2 separate regions of the Homo sapiens genome follow, and region 2 is linked to region 1. Evidence: fine-mapped expression QTL. Tissue or cell type: whole blood. Region 1 holds a variant in brackets; the other region holds the start of a gene. All regions are shown on one strand. Distances are between the middles of the regions.

What was found. PIP is the estimated chance that this variant, and not a neighbour inherited with it, causes the effect.
Region 2: it holds the start of PIP5K1C, and the variant in region 1 is fine-mapped to the expression of PIP5K1C in whole blood (TOPMed, PIP above 0.99).

The regions. Positions count from the first base shown.
Region 1 is chr19:3,652,394-3,660,494 of GRCh38, reverse strand. It overlaps PIP5K1C (phosphatidylinositol-4-phosphate 5-kinase type 1 gamma), which reads left to right. Exons shown (of 18, transcript NM_012398.3): 6 at 3,938-4,090; 7 at 6,906-7,205. Among named protein-coding and RNA genes, the nearest start is that of CACTIN, 30 kb to the right of the region's middle. RefSeq lists silencers at 4,209-4,258, 4,279-4,388. The variant G/A (reference allele first, on the strand shown) is at 3,857.
Region 2 is chr19:3,697,165-3,705,264 of GRCh38, reverse strand. It overlaps PIP5K1C (phosphatidylinositol-4-phosphate 5-kinase type 1 gamma), which reads left to right and starts at 4,797. Exons shown (of 18, transcript NM_012398.3): 1 at 4,797-4,968. The coding sequence starts at 4,875. RefSeq lists silencers at 4,549-5,038, 5,119-5,258 and an enhancer at 4,957-5,740.

The DNA.
Region 1 (8,101 bases):
ACCCCTTTGACCTAGCAGCCCATTATCCGGGCTCCTAAAAGAGGTGTTTGGAGGGTGGTGCTCCCCACAGTGGCCCTGGAGCTCATCAGCGCCAGCACCCCCTTTTTTTTTTTTCGAGACAGAGTCTCGCTCTGTCGCCCAGGCTGGAGTGCAGTGGTGCGATCTCGGCTCACTGTAAGCTCCGCCTCCTGGGTTCACGCCATTCTCCTGCCTCAGCTTCCCGAGTAGCTGGGACTACAGGTGCCTGCCACCACGCCCGGCTAATTTTTTGTATTTTTAGTAGAGACGGGGTTTCACCGTGTCAGCCAGGATGGTCTCGATCTCCTGACCTCGTGATCTGCCTGTCTCAGCCTCCCGTAGTGCTGGGATTAGAGGCGTGAGCTACCGCCTCAGCCTCCCGAAGTGCTGGGATTCCAGGCGTGAGCCCCGGCATCCAACCTGCGCCATCACCACTTCTAAAAGCTCCGGGTGGCCTTTTCCCAAGCCTGCCTGGTCATCCCGAGAACTTTGTATCAGGGAAGACTGGAACTCTGTAGACAAGTGCGGTTGGCGTTCTGGTTGTCACGACAGCACGGTCCCCGGGGCCGGGAGCCTGTGGTTCTCCGATCCTGCCCTCACCCGCGGTGGTCGGTTCCTTGTGCCTTTCTTTGGTGGTTGCTGACTGTGCGTGCGTTTGGTTTATCTCAGTCTGTAGGAAGCGCCCGAGGCTGCGCTCTTCCAGGGAGAACTAGCATGTGCTCCAGCCAGGGGTACGTGTGACACCCCCCCCTCCCCCGCCCCGAGAACTCCAGCCTGTTCAGGTGCCCGGGAGTCACCATGCTCCGGGTCGTGTCGCCAAGGCCCAGCCTCCGGACTTCAGTGTCCCAGCGTTTGCCTGAGCTTGGCAGGGCAGTGGGGAGTGAAAACACAGCTGGGGTTTTTGCCTAGAAATGGCCCTCGGGTGACCTGGACGCTACCGTGTGAGGCGGCCAGGAACAGAAGGCAGCAGCCTGGCTCGTAGCAGAGAGACAGCACCCGTGTCCATTAGCAGGAGTGGACGGATAAAAGCCGATCTGGGGCCATCTGGGTCTCACCTAGAACCCGATAAGATCGCATTCCAGGGCCTTAGGCCAGGTGTGCACCCACAGCATCTGGGGAGCCAGCCCGGTGTTGGTGACCCCCGAATCCTTCTGCTCATCTCAGGAGTGTGAGAATTCTCTTGGGGGCCTCCGGTGCTGAGCAGGCGGCAGCCCCCTAGCCTCTGTCCAGGCTGTGGTGTGAGTGTGGCCGTGTGCCACAGCGGGAGGACGGGCTAGTGTGCGTGTTGCTGTCCACAGGGCCCCTGAGCTTGAGTGGGGACAGGTAGGGTTCGGAGGGGACTCGAGGTTGCCGGTGCTTCTCTGATTGGACAGCTGAGGTCACAGTCCCCCCTGGTAAGGGGGGTAGCTCCAGGAAGGCCCACAGCTCAGGACAGCCAGGAAGGAGAAGGCGGAGGTGGGATGCAGGGTGGGGCTCAGCCCTGCCCAGTGGTCAGCAGAGGGTGGAGAGGAGGCCAAGGTCAGCGGCGCAGCTGCCGAGAGCCCCAGCACCGACGAAGGAGGCTGTGGGGGGTTGTCCTGGCACTGCCTGGCTCAGAAATCCACGCATGGGGCCTGCTTCCCCGTAGCAGCTGAGGCCCATGGAGGCCATAGCCCTGCAACTGCCATTAGTCATGTGGCTTCAGAATTTCCCTGTCATCGGTGTTCTTTGTACAAAGCCGAACGTGCCCTTTCCACAGTGTTTTCCGCTCTGCAGGTGAGATCGGCCTCCCCCTCCTGCCACCGTGGACAGGCAGCAGTGATTTGTGTCTCGGAGGGACACTCCGGCTGCTTGGGGTGTCCCCTGCTCCGGGTGACCTGAGGACAGCGGCCCAGGGCTTGGCGGGGTCCCCTGGCCTCCCAGGGAGGGCGCCAGCCCCAGGAGAGACCCGCCTTCGCTCTGCGCTGCTGCGCCTGTGTCTGGGAGGCTGGAGGGCGTCCTGCCGTGGCGGGGAAGGCGGAGGAGCCGCGTGGGCTCTGTGTTTCCTGTGGATATTTGTGGCTCGTGGCTGTGGGCAGAAAAAGGCAGGCAGATGGCTGGGCTGGGCGACAGCAGTGGCCTGGACAGATCTCCCTCCAGCCTCAGAGTCCACCCCACACGGCTCTCTCACCCTGCACCATCACTCCCAGCCAGGCCATGGCAGAAGCAGCGCATGCAGGAGGAAGGACCCTCGCTGTTCTGAGCTGCCAAGGTTGGCAGGGCTGTTGCTGACTCCGCAAAATCCAGCCTGTGTTGACCGACGTGTGATAACTGATGGCGCCGTTCCCTGGCCCGAGAGCACCTCGGGCAGTGCAGGGCGGGGGTGGTGACTTGAGCCCAAGGAGGGACTGGGGCATTCCCAGGCCCTGGGCCTGATGTGACCTCATGTTTCCGGCGTCCTCTGGTCCCCAAACATATTCACAGATCAGAGTGTGTGTGGCGCTGGGGACCCAACTCACGCCTCAAGCCCCTGGCTCTTCCAGCATTTTCCAAAGGTGGTTCCCCTCACTTGTTGGGGTGTTTTTTTAAACACTCTTGCTCTGTTGCCCAGGTTGGAGGGCAGTGGCGCTGTCACAGCTCACAGCAGCCTTGACCTCCTGGGCTCAAGTGATCCTCCCACCTCAGCCTCCCAAGTAGCTGGGACCACAGATGGGCATCACCATGCCTGTTTTTGTTTTCTTTCTTTTTTTTTTTTAGTACAGATGAGGCCTCGCTCTGTTGCCCAGGCTGGTCTTGAACTCCTGGGCTCAAATGATCCTCCTCAGCCTCCCAAGGTGTTGGGATTACAGAGTGCTGGGTGAGCCGCCGTGCCTGGCCTCCCCTCGCTTCTGCTCGCCACCACTCCTGACTCTCGTGGACACCCCCCACCTGTTTATCACAGCAGCATTGGAGGCGGCACGCAGCACTCGGAGACCACCCTTCTGTCGTCCAGCAGATACGGACCCAGCGTTGACCCTGGGGGGCCTGGCTTGCTCCGCTGATGGGGAGCTGGCTCTGACCTCATCCGTGTACACCAATGGCGACCAGTTAGGATTTTAAAGGGCGTGACACAGATGGCCTTAGCCCCATGCACACTTCATTGGTTCCATACCCGGAAGACGCAGGGTAGCACCCGTGGGTCTCATCTTCATTCTAGTCCTTAGCAAATCGAGCACCTGTCGAGTCAGTGACACAAAAAAACTTCCACCTGCACGGACCTTCTGCCTAATGTCCAGGAGAGGGCGTGGGGGCAGAGAGACAGCGAGCACATCATGAAACAAACAGCAGGGGCTGAGAAAAAGGGGCAGAGAAGTGGGGAGGAAGGGCTTGGACTGTGGGGTGCCAGGGGCCAGAGTGGGGCCTGCCCATCAGAGATGCAGCTTCCATCCCAGAGCTTACCTTCTAGTCCAGTGTGGCTGCTGAGGTTCCAGCCATCACATCAGCATCTCAGGAGGGAAATAGGTGGGAAGGAGAGAAGGGCAAATACGCAGGTATGCCAGCTGCCTGTCGCCCATCTGTGGAGCCTTCCCTGAGTTCCACCTGACAGCTTCTGCTTATGACTCATGGGGCAGAGCTGGCGTTGTGGCCCCACCCAGCTTCAGGGGTGCTGGGAGCACCTTTTAGCCACGCGCGTCAGCACCCCGGTGCGATCAGGTGTCCGCTCCTAAGGAGAGCAGCAGGCAGCCTGGGGAGTGCGCCCTAGCAGACCAGCCCTCGGGCTGCAGAGTCAGCTCGGCCTCAGGCTCCAGTCCTTGCTGGCTAGCCTCAGGCAAGTCTCTCGCCCTCTCTGAGCCTCTCTTTCCGCATCTGTAAAATGCAGCGACCCGTCATCAGTTCCTGG[G/A]GCTGTTGGGCAGACCGGAAGCCAGTGCTGTCTGTGTGTCCGGCAGCTTGGGGCCCGCTGACCCGCCTCCTCTGCTTCCAGTACTCCCTGTGCAATGAGCCGCTGATCGAGCTGTCCAACCCGGGCGCCAGTGGCTCCCTCTTCTACGTCACCAGCGACGACGAGTTCATCATCAAGACCGTCATGCACAAGGAGGCCGAGTTCCTGCAGAAGCTGCTCCCTGGCTACTACATGGTGCGTGGCCCGCCCTGCGGGGCAGATGGCTCCTCGGTCAACCCCCTTCTCCCGGCTGGCGGGAGCAGATGTCTGCAAGGCTTGGGCAAGCAGGCATCCTTGGGGCGTGGTGAGAGGCATCTTGGGTCCCGGGGACTCACCCTCGGGGGTCCCCCGTCAGGCTTCACCAGCACCAGTGTTCAGGAGCCGCCCTCTCTTCCTCCTGTGGCCACACGCCTTGGGGGCCGTCCCCGGGCAGGGCTGGGTGGGCACCGGCCCCTGCCTGGCTCCCCATCCCCACCTTGCCAACACCCCCTATGAGCCGTGGGCCCCAGAACCAGCAGCCTGCGGGCAGCGTCTGTCAGCTGCCACGGAGGCCCAAGGGGCCCAAGGGTGACTCAGAGGGTTCCAGAGAGGAGGGGGATGGGCCACCAGATGGTACCCCACAAAAGACCAGCTGCTCAGGCAGGCGTGAGGCAGCTCCATCCGGCCCACCCCTCATCCCGCATGACTCACAGAAAGGGTGCGTCAGGCCCCGGGAGGGGGGAGTAGGAGTAGGAGCCGGCGGCTGCCACAGTGTTCCTGGGCCTGGGATTCCGGTACTCGCCCAGACGAGGTGGGCGCCTTCCATGTTGCCAGGCCCAAGCTGCTGCCCGGCCCTGGGCAGCACAGCACAGCCTGTGACTCAGTTTCCCTTGAGGCCTCCTCCATCCACTCTCTGTGATGCTTAGCGAGGGGCCCGGGCTCCTTAGATCAGGCTCAGCAAACTCAGTCTTTAAAGGCCCAGAGAGAGTGTTTTTGGCTCTGCGAGCCAGTGTGCTGTGTCTCCAGGACTGAGCTCTGCCTGGATGGCAGCGAGCTGCTGTGACCACATGAGAATGGATGGGCGCGGCCATGTGCCCATACGCATTATTTATGGACCAAGAAATGCGAATTCCATATCACTTTCACGTGTCATCAAAGACTATTTTCTATTTCTCCACTTTTTTATTTATTTATTTATGTTTTGAGACGGAGTCTCGCTCTGTCACCCAGGCTGGAGTGCAGTGGTGCCATCTTGGCTCACTGCAGCCTCCCCCTCCTGGGTTCAAGCCATTCTCCTGCCTCAGCCTCCCGAGTAGCTGGGACTACAGGCGCCCGCCACCACGCCTGGCTATTTTTTTATATTTTTAGTAGAGACATGGTTTCACCGTGTTAGCCAGGATGGTCTCGATTTCCTGATGTCGTGATCTGCCTGTCTCGGCCTCCTGGAGTGTTGGAATTATAGGCGTGAGCCACCGCGCCTGGCCTCTTCATTTTTTTTTTTTTTTTTTTTTTTGAGATGGAGTCTCGCTCTGTCACCCAGGCTGGAGTGCATTGGCGTGATCTTGGCTTACTGCAAGCTCCGCCTCCTGGGTTCAAGCGATTCTGCTGCCTCAGCCTCCTGAGTAGTTGTGATTCCAGGCACCTACCACCACGCCTGGCTAATTTTTGTATTTTTAGTAGAGATGGGGTTTCACCGTGTTGGTCAAGCTGGTCTCCTGACTTCATGATCTGCCTGCCTTGGCCTCCCAAAGTGCTAGGATTATAGATGTGAGCCACTGTGCTTGGCCTTTTTTTTTTTTTTTCTTTTGAGATGGAGTCTGGCTCTGTTGCCCAGGCTGGAATGCAATGGCACAATCTCGGCTCACTGCAACCTCCATCTCCTAGGTTCAAGTGATTCTCCTGCCTCAGCCTCCCAAGCAGCTGGGATTACAGGCATGCGCCACCACTCCCAGCTAATTTTTATTTTTAATAGAGACGGGGTTTCACCATGTTGGCCAGGCTGGTCTCAAACTCCTGACCTCAGGTGATCCGCCCGCCTCGGCCTCCCACAGTGCTAGGATTACAGGCATGAGCCATCGCACTGGGCCCTTTCCACTTTTTAAAAATGGAAAAACCATTCTTAGCTCACAGCCCTACAAAAATAGGTGGTGGCCGGATTCGGCCCAGGGGCTGGAGTTCACCTAGCCTGCCCAGGCTGGTGCCTGAGTCCGCGCCCCTCACTCCTCTCCCTGTGGGTCTGTCTCAGCCCCGACACCTGGGCAGCTTCCCACTGGGTTCGTCATTGAGAGGCTCTGGGCAGGGGGCGCTGTTGCTTCACTTGGGTGCCCCTGAGTCACCCAGTGCCTGCTTGGGGTCTACAGGGTACAGCAGGACCCAGACTCGTCACTGCGCCTGGGGACCCAGATTTGGAGTGAAAGTCTGAGTTGATCAGTTCAACACAGGCAAAGCATAACCAACATAGAGGCTGGGCTCACGCCTGGAGTCCTGGCACTTTCGGAGGCTGAGGTGGGAGGATGGTTTGAGCCCTGGAGGTGGAGGCTGCAGTGAGCTGTGATCGCACCGTTGCACTCCAGCCTGGGCGACAGAGCGAGACCCTGTCTCAAGAAAATACATGTGTGTGTGCGTGTGTGTGTATGTGTTTGTGTGTGCATATACATACATGTATGTATTTTAGGATACAGCATTGCGTTTCCGGCCTCCAGACCTCCCAACAGGCGAGCCCAGCCAGGGCGATGTCTGTGGGCAGGCAGGGAGTGTGGAAGCTTCTGCTGGAACAGAAGCGCCTGCCTTGGGGCCTGGCTCTGTAGAAACAGACCCTCCTGGAGCTCACAGTTGTGGCCCATGAGAGTCAGGGTGCCGTGGGAAGGCCAGCTGGGTGCCTGCATAGGAACGGGGTCCCCGAGGGCTTCTGGGGAGAGAGGGGGGCTGGCCAGGGGCATCCATGAGCCCCCTGAGGCAGAGGCCTGCTTTGCCCGCCCCCGTGAGTCTGTGGCCCAGCCGCCCTCCACGACTTGCCCTCTTCCCCCGGCAGAACCTCAACCAGAACCCGCGGACGCTGCTGCCCAAGTTCTATGGGCTGTACTGCGTGCAGTCGGGGGGCAAGAACATCCGCGTCGTGGTCATGAACAACATCCTGCCCCGCGTGGTCAAGATGCACCTCAAGTTCGACCTCAAGGGCTCCACCTACAAGCGGCGCGCCAGCAAGAAGGAGAAGGAGAAGAGCTTCCCCACCTACAAGGACCTGGACTTCATGCAGGACATGCCCGAGGGGCTCCTGCTGGACGCCGACACCTTCAGCGCCCTGGTCAAGACGCTGCAGCGGGACTGCCTGGTGAGGGCTCGGCCCCGGCCGGGGAGGGAGGGTGGCAGGTGGGACTGCGTGGTGAGGGCTCGGCCTGGGCAGGCAGGGCCAGGGAGGGTGCCAGGCCGAGGCCCACCTGCCCTGCAGCCTACAGCAGGCCCCACCCCAGTGTGGGATCCAGAAGCGCTCAAGCTTTTATGGCCTTAACCTAAAATGTGGCCGGACACAGTGGCTCACGCCTGGGATCCCAGCTCTTTGGGAGGCAGGCAGATGGCTTGAGCCCAGGGTTTCAAGACCAGCAGGGGCAACATTGTGAGACCCCATCTCACAAAGAAAACAAAACACTTATAACATGTCCCCAGACCCAGCCCTTGGGGGTCGGGAGTGTCTGCACTGCTGAGAAGTGGTTCCTCTGGAGGTTACACGATGACAGTGGTAGAGTCCCCCCACCCCCCAGAGAAGAGCCCAGCCTTCAGATGCTGTGGTCACAAGCCCAGAGCTCCCAGCCAGCCATGAGAGCTTGCTGTGCCTCAGTTTCCTCACCCATCAAATGGGATGACTGCTTGCTCTGCAGGCCACAGTGAGGGCCCATGTGCGTCCAGTGAGGGTCTGGCTCCTGTCCCCGTGGAGCCTGCGTTGGCTCCGTGTTAGCGAAAGAATGATATGCACGGCTCTTCCTCTGCCTGGGTTAGCTCCGTCGTCCCCGTCCCACCCCGGCAGCTTCGAGGCATGGAGCCAAGGAGGGGAGGCCCCAGCCTGTCAGGAGCAGAGCCTGGGACCTCCCAGCTCCCCAACTCCACCCAGGCCCCGCTGCTGACCATCCCCAGCTCCCCGACCCCTTTGAGAACTTGACCCATACCCCCAGAAAACCGCCCAGACCACTCAGGGGCCTTGAGGCTACCCTGGGCATCCACCCACCTGGGTGT
Region 2 (8,100 bases), 45 kb before region 1:
TTTCTCCATGTTGGCCAGGCTGGTCTCGAACTCCTGACCTCAAGTGATCCGCCCACCTTGGCCTCTCAAAGTGCTGGGATTACAGGTATGAGCCACCGTGGCTGGCCCCTTCCCCCAAACTTTATCTGGCACCCAGTTTGCCTGGAAGGGAGGAGTCATGAACACCCAGATTGTGCCCTCCCACCACCCTACTCTGCCCAGTTTCTGGTGTGTGAAGTCTGGGTGGGGGCCTAGGAACCTGCATTTCTTTTACTTTTCATTGTTTGTTTTGAGACCAGGTCTCGCTCTGTTGCCCAGGCTGGACTGTAGTGGTGTGATCATAGCTCACTGCAGCTTCAAACTTCTGGGCTCAAGCGATCCTCCCACCTCAGCCTCCCAAGTAGCTGGGACTACAGGTGTGCACCACCATGCCAGGCTATTTTTGTTTTTTTGAGAGGAGTTTCGCTCTTGCTGCCCAGGCTGGAGCGCAATGGCGAGATCTTGACTCACTGCAACCTCTGCCTCCCGGGTTCAAGCAATTCTCCTGCCTCAGCCTCCTAAGTAGCTGGGATTACAGGCATGCGCCACCATGCCCGACTAATTTTTGTATTTTTAGTAGAGACAGGGTTTCTCCGTGATGGTCAGGCTGGTCTCGAACTCCTGACCTCAGGCGATCCACCTGCCTCAACCTCCCAAAGTGCTGGGATTACAGGCGTGAGCCACTGCATCTGGCCACGCCAGACTAATTTTTAATTTGTTTTGTAGAGATGGGATCTTGCTATGTTGCCCAGGCTGGTCTTGAACTCCTGGGCTAAAGTGATTCTCCTGCCTCAGCCTCAATCCCAAAGCACTGGGATTACAGGCATGAACCACTGCACCTGGCTTTGGAACCTGCATTTCTAACAAGCTCCCAGGGTGAGGCTGATGTGGCTGGCCCAGGGACCACACCTTGAGAGCCAGTGGTCTAAATCTTTTTTCAAAACAGATTCTGGGTGAATCAGGAGCTCTGTCCATGACCTGCGTCCAAAGAACTCTTCCTGGAGCCTTAAAATGGTCAAGGCCGCCTGCAGTGGCTGACGCCTGTAATCCTCACACTTTGGGAGGCCGAGGTGGGCAGATCACCTGACACCAGCCTGGCCAACACAGTGAAATCCCATTTCTACTGAAATTACAAAAATTAGCCAGGTATGGTAGCACACACCTGTGGTCTCAGCTACTTGGGAGGCTGAGGTGGGAGGATCGCTTGAACCTGGGAGGCAGAGGCTGCAGTAAGCCGAGATCACGCCACTGCACTCCAGCCTGGGTAACAGAGCAAGACTCATCTCAAAAAAGAAAAAACAAAAAATGGTAGTAAAATACGCACAACATACAATTCACAATTTTCACCATTTCTTTTTTTTCGAGTCTTGCTCTGTTGCCCAGGCTGGAGTGCAGTGGTGCCATGTTGGCTCACTGCAACCTCTGCCTCTCAGGTTCAAGTGATTCTCCTGCCTCAGCCTCCCGAGTAGCTGGGATTATAGGCCTGTGCCACTATGCCCAGCTAATTTTTTGGTATTTTTAGTAGAGACAGGGTTTCACCACATTGACCAGGCTGGTCTTGAACTCCTGACCTTAGGTGATCTGCCAGCCTCGGCCTCCCAAAGTGCTGGGATGACAGGCGTGAGCCACCGCACCCGGCCCATTTTCACCATTTCTTTCTTCTTCTTCTTCTTCTTTTTTTTTTTTTTTTTTTTTTGGAGACAGAGTCTTGCTCTGTCGCCCAGGCTGGAGTGCAGTGGTGCCATGTTGGCTCACTGCAACCTCTGCCTTTCGGGTTCAAGTGATTCTCCTGCCTCAGCCTCCCGAGTAGCTGGGATTACAGGCACGCGCCACCACGCCTGGCTAATTTTGTATTTTTAGTAGAGACGGGGTTTCTCCATGTTAGTCAGGCTGGTCTTGAACTCCCGACCTCAGGTAATCCGCCCACCTCGGCCTCCCAAAGTGCTGGGATTGCAGGTGTGAGCCCCCGCGCCCGGCCCATTTTCACCATGTCTAAGAGCACAGCTCCGTGGCCTTAAGCACATTCCCATGGCTGTGCAAACATCACCGCCATCATCTCCAGAATGTTCTCATCTTCTGAGACTGGAAGTCTGCCCCTGTGAAACACTCACTCCTCGTCTCCCCCCAAGCCCCTGGCACCCCCCATCCTACTTTCTGTCTCTGTGAATGTGACAACTCTAGGGACCTCCTAGGAGTGGAACCACACAGAATTTGTCTTTTTGTTTTTTTTGTTTGTTTTTTTTTTTTGCGGGGACAGACGGGGTCTTTCTCTGTTGCCCAGGCCAGAGTGCAGTGGTGCGATCATAGCTCACTGCAGCCTTGAGTTCCCGGGCTCAAGCAGTCCTCCCACCTTAGCCTACTAAGTAGCTGGCTAATTAAAAAACAATTTTTTTTGTAAAGATGAGGGGTCTCACTACACCTAGCTAATTAAAAAAATTTTTTTTGTAGAGATGAGAGGGCTCACTATGTTACCCAGGCTGGTCTAGAACTCCTGAGCTCAAGTAATCCTCCTGCCTTGGCCTCCCAAAGTGCTGGAATTACAGGCGGGAGCCTCTGTGCCCACCCCAAACATTATTTATGTGCATAGGTAATATAATCATTATGATTTACATTTATGTAAATAATATAAACGTTATTACTTAAATTAACATAAACAACATAAGCCTTATTATGTGCTTATATAAAGAACATAAATATGGCCGGGCGCAGTGGCTCACACCTGTAATCCCAGCACTTTGGGAAGCTGAGGCGGGAAGATCACGAGGTCAGGCGTTCAAGACCAGCCTGGCCAACATGGCGAAACCTCATCTCTACTAAAAATACAAAAATTAGCCGGGCGTGGTGGCACGTACCTGTAGTCCTAGTTACTTGGGAGGGTGAGGCAGGAGAATCACTTGAACCCTGGAGGCAGAGGTTGCAGTGAGCTCAGATCGCCCCCCTGCACTCCAGCCTGGGCAACAACAGCAAGACTCCATCTCAAAAAAAAAAAAGAAGGATATAAATATTGCTACTTACATTTGCATAAATATATATAATTTATTATGTATTTCTATAATTATATGTTTCTTATAATAGCAAACTGTATTATTATTGATAAAATAATATAAAGAAAACAATAACATATCTATACTTACGTAATACAAACGATGGAATATAAATATTATTTGCAATATGATAATAAACAGGTAGTTAATTGCAAATGTTATTGATATGTATTGCGTAGATCAATGTTAATAACATGTATTGTGTAGATCTATATATATATATATTTTTTTTTGATATGGAGTCTCGCTCTGTTGCCCAGGCTGGAGTGCAGTGACACGATCTCAGCTCACTGCAAGCTCTGCCTCCCAGGTTCACCCTATTCTCCTGCCTTAGCCTCCCAAGTAGCTGGGACTACAGGCGCCCGCCACCACGCCTGGCTAATTTTTTGTATTTTTAGTAGAGACGGGGTTTCACCATGTTAACCAGGATGGTCTCAATCTCCTGACCTCGTGATCCGCCCGCCTCGGCCTCCCAAAGTCTTGGGATTACAGGCATGAGCCACCGCGCCCGGCCCTGTGTAGATCAATATTATTTACATGTACTGTGTATATCACTGTTATTGGTATATTTTGTGCATATCAATGTTATTGACATGTAGTGTGTATATCAATGTTATTGACATGTAGTGTGTACATTAATGTTATTGGCATGTAGTGTGTATATCAATGTTATTGGCATGTAGTGTGTATATCCATGTTATTGGCATGTAGTGTGTATATCAATGTTATTGACATGTAGTGTGTGTATCAATGTTAGTTACATGTATTGTGTAGATCAATGTTATTGGTATTCATTGTGTATAGCAATGTGATTGGCATGTATTGCATATAGCAATGCTATTTGTATGTTTTATGTAGATCCATGTCAATGATATAGTATAGATTCATGTTATTGGCATGTATTGTGTATATCCATGTTATTGGCATGTATTGTGCATATCCGTGTTATTGGCATGTATTGTGTATATCCATGTTATTGGCATGCATTGGGTAACTCCATGTTATTGGCATGTGCTGTGTAGGTCCATGTGTGGTTTTTTTTGGGACAGAGTCTCACTCTGTGGCCCAGGCTGGAGGGCAATGGTGCGATCTCAGCTCACTGCAACCTCTCCCTCCTGGGTTCCAGCGATTCTCCTGCCTCAGCCTCCCGAGTAGCCGCGATTACAGGCATGTGCCACCACGCCCAGCTATTTTTTGTATTTTTAGTAGAGACAGGATTTCACCATGTTGGTCAGGATGGTCTTGAACTCCTGACCTCAGGTGATCCGCCCTCTTCGGCCTCCCAAAGTGCCGGGAATATAGGCGTGAGTCACCGCGCCCGGCCAGATCCATGTTATTGTCATGCGCTGTGCAGGTCCCTGTTATTGGCATGTGCTGTTTAGATCCATGTTATTGGCATGTGCTGTGTACATCCATATTATTGGCACGTGCTGTATAGATCCATATTATTGTCATGTGTTGTGTAGATCCATGTTATTGGTATGTGTTGTGCACAGCAATGTTATTGATACGTATCGTGCCTGTCAATCTTACTGACCTAATACGATGGAATGGCGAGCCTGGCTCTGTACTCCCACCCCTGGGCGCGAGGGGGCACTCGAGGCGCTCCTGGCTGCGGGTCGCAAGCAGGCCCCGCCCCCGAGCCCCGATTGGCCGCGCGCCGTCCGCGGCGTCGCACGCACGCAGGCCCCGCCCCGTCCGCCCCGCGCCGGCCCGGCGCGCCCTCCCTTGGCCGGCGGCGCTTGTTGTTCGGCGGCGGCGGTCGCAGCTCGGGTCCCCCTCGGGCGCCCCCGCCGCCGTCCGCGCGCGGCCATGGAGCTGGAGGTACCGGACGAGGCGGAGAGCGCTGAGGCGGGGGCCGTGCCCTCGGAGGCGGCGTGGGCGGCAGAGAGCGGGGCGGCGGCAGGTAACGGCCCGGCCTCCCGGGGCTGCGGCCCGCTGGGCTCGTCCGAGCGCCGAGAGTCGCGGGGCTGCGGGGCCGGGGCGGGGGCTGCACGGTCGCTGCGGGGGCGCCGCCGGTTCCAGGAGCCTGGGGCGGGGCAGTCCCCTGGAGCCGCGGGGAGGACGGGGCTGAAGCCGCGCCGGGAAGCGGGAGGCCTGCGAGGGGCTACCTCCCACCGCTCCCGGGCCGGGGGCGACTCGGCGTGGGCGCCGCTGGGGATCCCCGTTCTGCCTGACCCGCTCCCAGGGGCTGCCCGTCGTGTGAGTGGCGGCTGCTTGGGTGGAGGCGGGGGTCTCTGAGGCCGTGCGTGCCCACCTCCTGATGTCACCTCCCTTTCTGTAAGTCCCCAGACCTGAGTCCGGGTGCGCGACCTTTCCTCACCTTCCTGGGCCTCAGTTTACCTCCCTGCTAAAATGAGGGGAGGAAAAGGGTTACATCTCAAGATGCCTCCACCGCCCCGGCTGTGCACACAGGGTGCCCTGTCGCCCCCTTTTCCTCTCCCCGAGCCTTCCCCCAGGACACACTGGTGGGGCTGCGGGCTGGGCGGGGGGCACGGCTGTCTCATGCCCCCTTTAGCTGCTTCCTGGACCTCCAGCCGGGTAGGTGGCGGCAGCTGGGCCTTCCCTTCTGTGGGGACGGTGTGCAGAGCCCAGAGGAAGGGAACAGTTCCTTCTCAGTCGAGGTCACAAGCTCCCAAATCGGAAGTTTCCGGATTCACAAAATCCTCTGCTCCTCCCAGGCAGCCAGCAGCAGCGTCTCTGTAGACACCCACACGGGCATCCGTCCTCCTTCTCCCCCCAGGCCTCCCGAAGCTTCCTTGGTTGGCAGGCGGGCAAGCGGGCGGGCGGGCGATGCGTGCTGCCTGGGAGTTGGGGAGATGTCTGGAGAGAGAGAGAGTGTGGAAGTCATCAAGTCCCCCCCCCACCCCCCGCCTTGAAAGACACTCGTGGCTTCCCTCCCGGCGGCCATCTGGAACCGCTTGGTAGGTGACCCGGTTCCTTCCCCAGAGCCAGTGGCCTCGCCCCTTTCTTTGCGGGCAGCCGGTGTCCTGGCCTGGCCAGCAAGAGACATGGTGGAGGAACCCAGGCAGGGCACCAGGCCCCAGCCCGGGTTCCTTTCTTGGGCCCCCCAACTTCCGCTGTCAGCCCTCTGACCCCAGCTGGTCAGAGACAAAGTAGCCCAGGACTCGCTGACCAAAAGAAAACCACACCGCGACCATTCATCTTATCAGGGGCTCTGGGAGCACCGGGGACAGATAAAGTTGCCAGCTCCAGACTGAGCATGGTGGTGGGGTGGGAGAGCGGGGGAGTGGGGGGGTGGGGGTGGGGGGCCGGGGAGGGCTGGAAGGTCAGGGTCTGGCATCTCTGCCCATCCCTGAAATCCACAGAAATCTGACCCCAGCTGGCCATATACTGCTTCTGAATGTTTAAAATTCAGAGTTGCCTCACTCCTCCAACGCCATCCCTCCTGATGTTAGCGCTGGTGAGTTTAGGTTGTGCCTGGCTGGGCCACAGAGACGTGAGCACATAAAGGGGCCTGCTTGTTCTTCACCGAGATGGTTTCATGCCTCACTGGGGCTTCTGTGCCTTGGCAGAGGTATTTTGAGTCAGGAAATTAGGGGTGCTGAGCAACGCCCCTGGCTTCTGCCCACTCCATGCCAGGAGCACCTGCCAGTTGTGACAGCCACAAGTGACCCAGACACCGTTCAGTGTCCCCTGGGGGCAGGACGGCCCTGGTGAGAAATGCCACACGTTTATGACTCTGTGAACTGCTTGCTTTTTATCTCTGGTCATCTGGAGTCTCCCCACCCTATGTTGGTATCGGTTTGTAGAGAGGGCGAGCGCCAGGCAGTGGTTAAGGGGGAGCCCCAGAGTTGGTCCCGCCGATGTCCCCCTCCCAGCTCCGCGCTTCAGGTGCTGTGTGGCCGTCACTTCCCCGGGCTTCAGCGTCCCGTCTGTGAAGTGGGGTGATGACCGTGTGTGCTAGGGGCTGAGCCTGGGATGAGTTGGCGCTCGTGCTTGGTGATTGTCGTGCCGGTTGGCCACCCCTTTCCGGCCTCTCCACCATCGGTGCCTCCAGGCCCCTGCTGAGGCCCATGCCCGTGGTTTCTGGAGTCACCGCTCACTGTTAGAAGCGATGGCGACACCTTCCAGAAAGCTCAGCTACAGCGGGAGCCTTGTCCGACAGGGGCCGAGGGAGGCTGCCCGTTTCCCACGGCACTGCCAGCTCCCAGTGTCATCGTCCTTGGCGATTTCGGCTGATCCGATGGGAGGCAAAGCAATGTCTCGTTGGTGTTTAGAATTTGGTTCCTCTAATTGCCTGGGCTCCTGGCTCCCGAGGCGTGGCCTGAATGGCGTCTCCATGGGCCGTGGCCGTGGGGCACGTGGGGGCGGTCTCGGGAAGGCCGGGGCTTGGGATGCGGCTGTGCCCACTGTGTGGGCCGATGGCCTGTGGTGGAGTTTGGTCTGAGCTGTGGCCTGGGCGTGTCTGAGCCTCTCCCAGGCTGTCCTGTCTCTGTGATGCCCCAGAACGGTCAGCTCCATCCCTGCCCCTGCCCCACTCCCACGGCTGATCTGTCTCTGTGATGCCCTGGAAAGGTCAGCTGCATCCCTGCCCCTGCCCCACTTCCACGGCTGATCTGGCAGCAAATGATGGCAGCTTCACCTTCAGAACTGGCCCAGAACCCACTGACTCCTTCCCTGTCCTCTGCCTCTCCCGGGTCCAGCTTGGTCCTCCCGGGTCCAGCTTGGTCCTCCCTGGTCCAGCTCGGTCCTCCCCGGTCCAGCTCGGTCCTCCTCGGTCCAGCTCGGTCCTCCTCCGTACAGCTCGGTCCTCCTCCGTCTGGCTGAGTACTCCCCGGTCCAGCTCAGTCCTCCTCCGTCTGGCTCAGTCCTCCTCTGTCTGGCTCGGTCCTCCCCGGTCCAGCTCGGTCCTCCTCCGTCCGGCCCAGTCCTCCTCCATCCGGCTCGGTCCTCTATCCGGCTTGGTCCTCCTCCATCTGGCTCGGTCCTCCCGGGTCCAGCTCGGTCCTCCCCGGTCCAGCTTAGTCCTCCTCCATCCGGCTCAGTCCTCCCCAGTCCAGCTTGGTCCTCCTCT